Regions from separate parts of the Homo sapiens genome. Here region 1 is reported to be linked to region 2. The links are microRNA targets in miRTarBase. Many come from high-throughput screens and were not tested one by one. Region 2 holds a microRNA gene; the other region holds the end of a gene's coding sequence.
What was found. The annotated mature microRNA hsa-miR-597-5p reads UGUGUCACUCGAUGACCACUGU and lies in region 2 at 1,439-1,460, shown strand. An mRNA with a match to its seed (bases 2 to 7 or 8) in the 3' UTR can be bound and repressed. Matches are read on the target gene's strand: a 7mer-m8 pairs with bases 2 to 8, a 7mer-A1 pairs with bases 2 to 7 and ends in A, and an 8mer does both.

Region 1 (4,000 bases), not on the chromosome of region 2:
TTAGTAATCTGTCTTGATGATCTCTCCAATATCATCAGTGGGGTGTTGAAATCTACTATTATTGTGTGGTTACCTATGTCTCTTTGTAAGACTAAAAGAATTTGTTTTATAAATCCAGGTGCTGTAGTATTGGGTGCATATATTTAGGATAGTTAAGTCTTCTTGTTGAGTTGAACCCTTTATCACTTCCTTTCTTTGTCCTTTTTGATCATTTTTGGTTTAAAGTCTGTTTTGTCTGAAATAAGAATAGCAACCCCTGCTCTTTTTTGTTTGTTTTCTATTTGCTTGATAAATCTTTCTCCATCCCTTTACTCTGAGCCTATAGGTGTCCTTGAATGTGAGATTGGTCTCTTAAAGACAGCATACACTTGGGTCTTTCTTCTTTAATCAATTTGCCACTTTATGCCTTTTAAGTGGAGTGTTTAGCCCACTACCATTCAAGGTTAATATTAATATGTGTGGATTTGATCCTGTCATTCTGTTGTTACCTGGCGTTACGTAGACATGATTGTGTTTTTGCTTTATAGCATCAATGGTGTATGAACTTTAGTGTGTTTTTGTAGTAGCCAGTAATGGTCTTTCATTTCCATATTCAGCACTCCCTATGAACCTCTTGAAAAGCAGGTCTGGTGGTAATGAATTCCCTTAGTATTTGCTTGTCTGAAAAGGATTTTATTTCTCCTTTGCTTATGAGGTCTAGTTTGGCTGGATATGAAATTCTTTGTTGGAATTTCTTTTCTTTAAGGATGCTGAATATAGGCCCCCAGTCTCTTCTGGCTTGTAGAGTTTTGGCTGAAAGGTCCAGTGTTATCCACTGCTGTGGTTCCCTTTGTAGGTTGACCTGCTCATTCTCCCTAGCTACCTTTAATAGTTTTCTTTTCACATTGACCTTGGAGGATCTGATGACTATGTGTCTTGGGGATGGTTGTATTATATAGTATCTTGCTGGGGTTCTCTGAATTTCCTGAATTTGAATATCAACCTCTCTAGCTAAGTTGGGGACATTTTCATGGACAATATCCTCAAACATGTTTTCCAAATTGCTTGCTTTCTTTCCCTGTCTTTCAGGGATGCCAATGGGTCATAAGTTTTGTCTTTTTACATAATCTCATGTTTCTTGGAGATTTGTTCATTTTTGAAAATTCTATTTTCTTTATTTTTATCTGACTGTTAATGTGAAGAACTAGTCTTTGAGTTCTGAGATTCTTTACTTGACTTGGTCTACTCTGCTGTTAATACTTCCAATGTGTTATGAAATTCTTGTGGTGAGTTTTTCAGCTCTGTCAGATCAGTTTTGTTCTTTCTTAAAATGGCTATTTCATATTTCATTCCTTGTATGGTTTTGTTGAATTCCTCAGATTCCTCGGAATGGGTTTCAATCTTCTGATTTTCAGTGATCTTCATTGCCATCCAGATTCTGAATTCTATTTCTGTAATTTCATCCATTTTATTCTGGTTAAGAATCACTGCAGAGCAGCTAGTTCAGTCATTTGGAGGTAAGGAGGCAATCTGGCTTTTAGAGTTTCAGGAGTTCTTGAGCTGGTTCTTTCTCACCTATGTGGACTGATGTTTCTTTAATTGCAGTGTAATTTGAGTATAGTCAGTCGGTTTCATTTCTGTATGTGTTCAGAGGGCTGAGGCTTTGTGCAGGGTCTTTATTTGCAGTTGAGTTCTTGTCCTTGGTTTTACAGAGGAGTATATTACCAAAGTATTTTTGGTGTTGAAGTTTGGTTTGCAATTTAATAGATAGTGCTTAAACATAATGACTGGTAGATAGGCTCTTACCCAGCCATGCAGCCCCTCTGTGTTTCCTCACATTTGTAGCCATGCTTCCCCTCAGTGCTCTGAGAGTGTGTGATCCTCTCCCACTCAAGTGCTGGTCATAGATCTCAGCTTAGCACTCCCAGACTGTGCACTGCAGGCCTGAGACAAGCTTAGGATTTTTTCTCTCTCCCCAGCTTGGTGGCAGCAGGGGCAGGGACCTTGGCATGCCACTCAGAGCCACTGCCAATTAGAATAATCAGCTGGGGAAAGGTGGTTGCATTGCAGGCCCAAGCTAGGGGCTCATGACTGGTGAAGAGCAGGAGGGCAGGGGAAGGCAGTCTTGCCTCTTTTCCATAGGGCACTGCAGCATGCTGGAGGTGCACAAATTCCAAGATTCCTAATCCATCCCTAATTACTGGCTAGAGAGGGATAAAATTCTGATACTGACACATATGTTTGGATGGCACTCCTCTGTCTCTGTCTTCTGCTACTGGTCAGACAAGCACAGCAGGTACCATTTATTCTACAAGAAATTTCTGAGTGTCTGTAACAGAACAGTGTTAGTTAATTAGGGATTAGACATAGGCCATGAATAACAATATTTCTCATCGTGGACACTTTACCTAGAGTGACTATCATTGTGGTCAGGCCAATTCTGGACACGTATTTATTTTATTTTATTTTATTTTTTATTGTTAGTTGCCGAAAGGTAGATTCTTCTGCAAGTTTTATAAAACCTCAAAAACTAAGTGACAGCACTTAATCAATACTTCTTGTAACAATTAAATTAAAGTCAGAAGAGCATTTCCTTACTTAGTTCTAGGAAAGTAAAAGTCAATCCCATACCAACTGGGAGACTTAATTCCAAAGCAGGTTTAACGTTGGCCTGAGCTGTTTACTAAAATAAGAAACGTACCTGCCTTGAGCTTACTCCTGGTCATGACATGGAACATACTTTTGAGAAATTTCCATTTTTTATTGATTCACAATTATTGTAGTAAGATTGATCATTTGTATCTGGTTTTGTCAAGATACCTGGAGGGCTCTGTTGCTTGGCTGGTTACACAGCAAGACTATGTCTACATGACCAGCTGAGTAAAAGGAAACCTGGCTGAAACTGAATTTTAGATCATCTTGTTTGAGGTGTTTTTTTCCACACATCCATGGTTTCTGGACCCAGAGAGAAAAATATAAGGACCATATTCTGGTATGGTCCTTATAGAGAGAGGGCAATTAGACCCTTCAACTAGCTTCTCTGAACCCATTTCCCTGAGCCAGCCTACGGCTGTGATACACATCTTTACTTTAATGCAGTTTCTATATTTTATCATTTTCTTGCAATAAACTGCAAATTTGCAAGCACCGTCACTTGGATTCTGCCAGTCTTTGTCAGCAACAGAAGCCTGTCTAAGTGCCACAGTTAGTGTGTGCTTACTGACCTAGGTAGGCAGACTGAATTTACAAGGAAACATTAACAACAGGCAGAAAGAGCAAATTGTGTCATTCCTTAGACAGGCAAGAGAATTGGACAAATCGTCTACAACCACCAGGTCATTCATTTTTTGGCAATTTTTGTTAGAGTTTGTTTTTAGACAAATAGACAATGATCATTGCATTGACACAAACCATTAGCTTTCCAGCTTTTGAAATTCTTTAAAAACAATCTAAGCTGCACCAGGCTAACAAAACAGATATTAATGATTGTCTCCGTGAATGAAATTGGGAAACTTACGTAATTATTGCCTAGGTGTGGAGAGAATTCCTCAAGCTGTCAGTTCTTGGTTTTTCCTTGTGCAGAGTGCTCACCTGAGAACAGAAGATATGTTTTGATCTGTAAGCTCAGAGACTGAGTAAGGATGAAAATAAAGTTTCCTAGCTTTTTTCTATTTTTCAAGGAAAGTTCAACTTTCCTGCAAGAATGTCATTAAAGCCACCATTTGCCTCTTGGTATTGTCTAGAAATTAGTCACCAAAATATATGAACTTTTCCCAGACATCATCTGTTTTCACTTTAAAGTAGCAATATGAAGTCCTGGGTGGGATAGGTCAGGGGGCAGTGGGGGCGGGGATGTGAGTTGGGAGATGATAACATTAGAGAAACCCTGGGGAATAAGTATTGATTTTTGCTTGTTACATGAGCTGGCTGTGCCTAAGCAAGCCCATGTCATGTGTTTAAAGTGCCATTTTATCAGGAAGACATTCTAGGGTCCTTCTGTTTAAATAATTCAGTGAGGGTT
Region 2 (4,129 bases):
TCATCCACTTAATCCCTTCTTGACTGTAAAAACCCACAGATGCCAGTTCATACGTACCAGGTGTTCTCACAGTTGGAATCACTCTTGATAGAAGGTGGTTTCTAGATTTGCAAAAGCCTGACAAACTATAAATAAAAACCAAACCAACCCAACCACCTTGATTACCATATTCTTCCTCCTACCGCCTTCTCCCTGGCCCTTTGTAATGAGACTGTCGTCTCTCAGACCCATTTTACAAAGACCTGTATTTCAGAGAGAGGACAAATCTGAGTGAGGATACTTTTAAGGAAAGCAACAATCCGGTTTTTTGAAAGAAAACTATGCTTCCAAGTATGATATAAATTAATTGAAAGTATCATATTTAATGAGTGTTAGTACTGAAATCCTCTTGAAACTACAGTATTTAAAGTTACCTTTCTAAAGATGAGTAGTCTTTTATTAAAATTCGTAGAAATTTTAACCTTCCTTCACATAAGGTTCTCAATTTCTCTGAGCAACAAATACTTCTACCAAAGACTTAGCATGCTAAATATTTGCTGCTAACATACTACATATACATTTATATGTAATTCTTGTTGTTTTTTTTTTTTTTTTTTTTGAGAACAGGTCGGACTGCAGTGGCGCTATCTCAGCTCACTGCAAGCTCCGCCTCCCGGGTTCACGCCATTCTCCTGCCTCAGCCTCCCGAGTAGCTGGAACTACAGGCGCCTGCCACCACGCCCAGCTAATTTTTTTTGTATTTTTAGTAGAGACGGGGTTTCACCGTGTCAGCCGAGATGATCTCTATCTCCTGACCTCGTGATCCGCCTGCCTCGGCCTCCCGAAGTGCTGGGATTACAGGCGTGAGCCACCACGCCCGGCCTACATGTAATTCTTGACCCTTAAGTTATAACTTACACATGTATATCATTTGGAGACAAATTTTCAGCACTTCTTAGCATAATTGTTCTCTTCATATGGTTTTCTACTAATCCTTTTGCTAAGCTTCAGTTAAGGGTTTATAAAGCCAATGGGATCGGTAGAACTGAAATTAGATCTTTTATCGTCTCTGTAAACTTACTATGAGTAGGGACAGATGGTGGCCATAGAATTATAATAATGAACTGATCTAGTAAGGCTTATGTTACACTGTCAACTGTGTAGACTACAGTAGATCCCATACATTGTGGATGTAAGGAAGTTCTACTCCATTAGCCTTCACCTTTCACAGTCTTTATAGCAGTCACGGAGGATAAGGAAAAGAAAAATTAATTTATAAAGTATTTTACCTTTTGATCCTCATTCTTCTCATGGGATAGCGTTAAGATGTGTTCTACTGCATTAGTCTTCACCTTGCACAGTCTTTATAGCTGTCACAGAGGATAAAGGAAAGTTAATTTATAAACTAAGTATTTTACCTTTTGATCCCCATCAGTTAAGATGTTACTTACTCTACGTGTGTGTCACTCGATGACCACTGTGAAGACAGTAAAATGTACAGTGGTTCTCTTGTGGCTCAAGCGTAATGTAGAGTACTGGTCGACCTTGTCTAACTTCACGTTCCCTTGAGGCTGACTTGCTGTCACCTGAAGAGAGGTGTAATGCAATCGGTCTCCTGACCGGAAGTCCACTCTTTCATTTTCATAAACTTTATTCACCATCACCCATAACTCCCCTTCTCCTTTTCTAACTCCAAGTAAGAAAAAATAATGAACACTTTTTTTCACTATCTCTTTTTATGGTATCCTCTTTTTATGTTTGTTAAATCCCTACTACTTAGCTCTTTGTAAATGAAGGTAACTTACTGAGGTGAGAATGATCAAAAAATTCTCCAGGCCTTGTAAAGGGCATTTGATAGAGGTTTTGATCAACCTGGTTCATCTCATCCTTGTATGGAAGAATGCAAATGGGCTACATAATGTGTTTATAGCAGGTATTTTTACCTCATTGTGAGGGTGGATTGAGTCACTCAAAAATTTTTTTCATGTATTAAACTTGTAAATTTAAAAATCAGGCATCCGTGAGTTGATGACTGTTACTTTTTTTTGGCAAACTTTGACTCTGGTGATTTCTAGACCTTTTTTTAATTACCTTTTTTTTTTTTTGGTCAGATACATGAGTGTGATAATACCTTTTTTTTGTTTTTTAACATGGGCAACCCACTTCCCTCAGCAATCTCGCATGACATACAGTGACTCTCAGTTGGTATTTTCCCTGTTCACGATCTCTGCTCCGCAAAATAATTTTATTTTATGCCACTTGTAAAACCTATAATCTATTATTAGTAACCAATCAGTAACCATATTAAGTAGTATTTCTCTTAATCTCAATTAATAGACTTAAAGTAAGGCTAGGCATGGTGGCTCACTTCTGCAATCTCAGCACGTTGGGAGGCTGAGACAGCAACATGGTTTAAGGCCAGGAGTTTGAGACCAGCCTGGGCGACATAGTGAGACCCTATCTCTATATAATTATTTATAAATAAATATTTAATAAATATTTATTTAAAATATAATGAATTAAATTAAGAAGTATTTATTAGTACTCCTTAAATATATATACTTATATATTTAAGGATATACATGTATATCCTTATATTTAAGGAGTAATAAATACATACATTTATATATTTAAGGAGTACTAATATTAACACAATATAAAAAGTTTAAAAAGCTACTTTGTCTCCCCTTAAGAGTAGATACAACTGTGTTCTATTATTTGTAGATTGATAAATCTGTGTATCTTTCAAAAGTTCCTTTTTATTCATTCTATCCTGCCTTGGCTGGATATTTTAATGAAATCATAGGACTCCAGTCTACATTTCTATTAGGATAGAAAAACACTGATTATGTTGTATTCGTCCCATGAATTTGATGATGCTTGAACTAGCCTGGCCACATATCATTTTGTGGAGTAGATTTTCTGTGGCATATCATCTGGAATACAGCTTCTATTCTGAAAATCAAGCAATTTATAGAGCAACTGTAGGTATAGTGTTACCCAGTGATCTCTACTTAAATCATTTCTTCTTCCTAATATTATCTCTTTCCCATTTTCAGCTTGGAAGGAAAATGGCTCTTGTGTTTTAGTCTAGCAAACTCTGCAGGCACCTGTGGTTTAATGGAAAAACCTGAACTTAGGGTCTGAATATCTGGGATCTAGTCTTTCCTCTTCTGTTTTATAACCCAGTAGTCTTCAGCAAGTGTCTAACTTTTTCTCATCTTTGGTTTTCTCAGTAGTAAAAGTTGGATTCCAAGACCTCCTTTCCAGCTTGTTGTAATGATTAAATGAGACCATGCATGTGGAAATTGCATTAACTAATGTAAGGCATTATAAAAATGCAAGGTAATACTGTTATTATAAAATAACTTGCTTCATGGCCGGGTGCAATGGCTCATGCCTATAATCCCAGCACTTTGGGAGGCTGAGGCGGGAGGATCTTTCAAGCCCAAGAGTTCAAGACCGGCCTAGGCAACATAGCGAGACCCCATTTCTACCAAAAAATACATATCCATATCTATAGATGTATAGATATTAAAAATTAGTAAATTCCTTGCTTCCCACAGTTCCTGTACTAAGCCAGTCAGAATAAGGGCTGCATGTCACTCCTACATTTCACAGCCTTAGGAATAATCTATATATTTGACTGGCTCAGTGCTGTGTTAAATAAACACAGATTAATTGACTAGGCTGAGGATGAAATAATAATCTGAGGTAGCTGTGAAATTACATAGTTATTTACTTATGTAGTTATTTATTGATCATTATTCCTTCATACTTATTTACTTTTTTCCCCTAGAGAGCTCAATCTGCTCTGTGTGTGTCTTTGAGCCTTTTTTGTATAAAAAGAACCTCAGTTTTTCCAAATGGAGAAAAAAATACATATTTATTTAAGAAGCATCAATAAAAATTACAAGTTGCATGAGAGTTGATATTAGTGGTAGTGTGCCTTACTGTGTCGGTGTTCTTTATATAATAATGCCTTGTGTTATATTTGAATACATGTTTATACAAGACAGTTAACTTTTCTGCTAAGTCAGTAAATGGCATTGATACTTATTACCACAAAGCATGTAAATTTATATCTTATAAGAGTAAATCAATTGACTGATTCATTTTCTCTCAACTGTTTTTATTTTCCAGTGCTTTC

Region 1: the mRNA of EMCN is a reported target of hsa-miR-597-5p. The part of its 3' UTR that is shown has no 7-base or 8-base seed match.

What each region holds. Positions count from the first base shown.
Region 1 is chr4:100,406,786-100,410,785 of GRCh38, forward strand. It overlaps EMCN (endomucin), which reads right to left. Exons shown (of 12, transcript NM_016242.4): 11 at 3,497-3,570. The coding sequence ends at 3,536. Among named protein-coding and RNA genes, the nearest start is that of SNORA101A, 14 kb to the left of the region's middle.
Region 2 is chr8:9,740,249-9,744,377 of GRCh38, forward strand. MIR597 (microRNA 597) reads left to right here and starts at 1,424; the gene lies at 1,424-1,520. All of the region lies in intron 17 of TNKS (tankyrase), which reads left to right.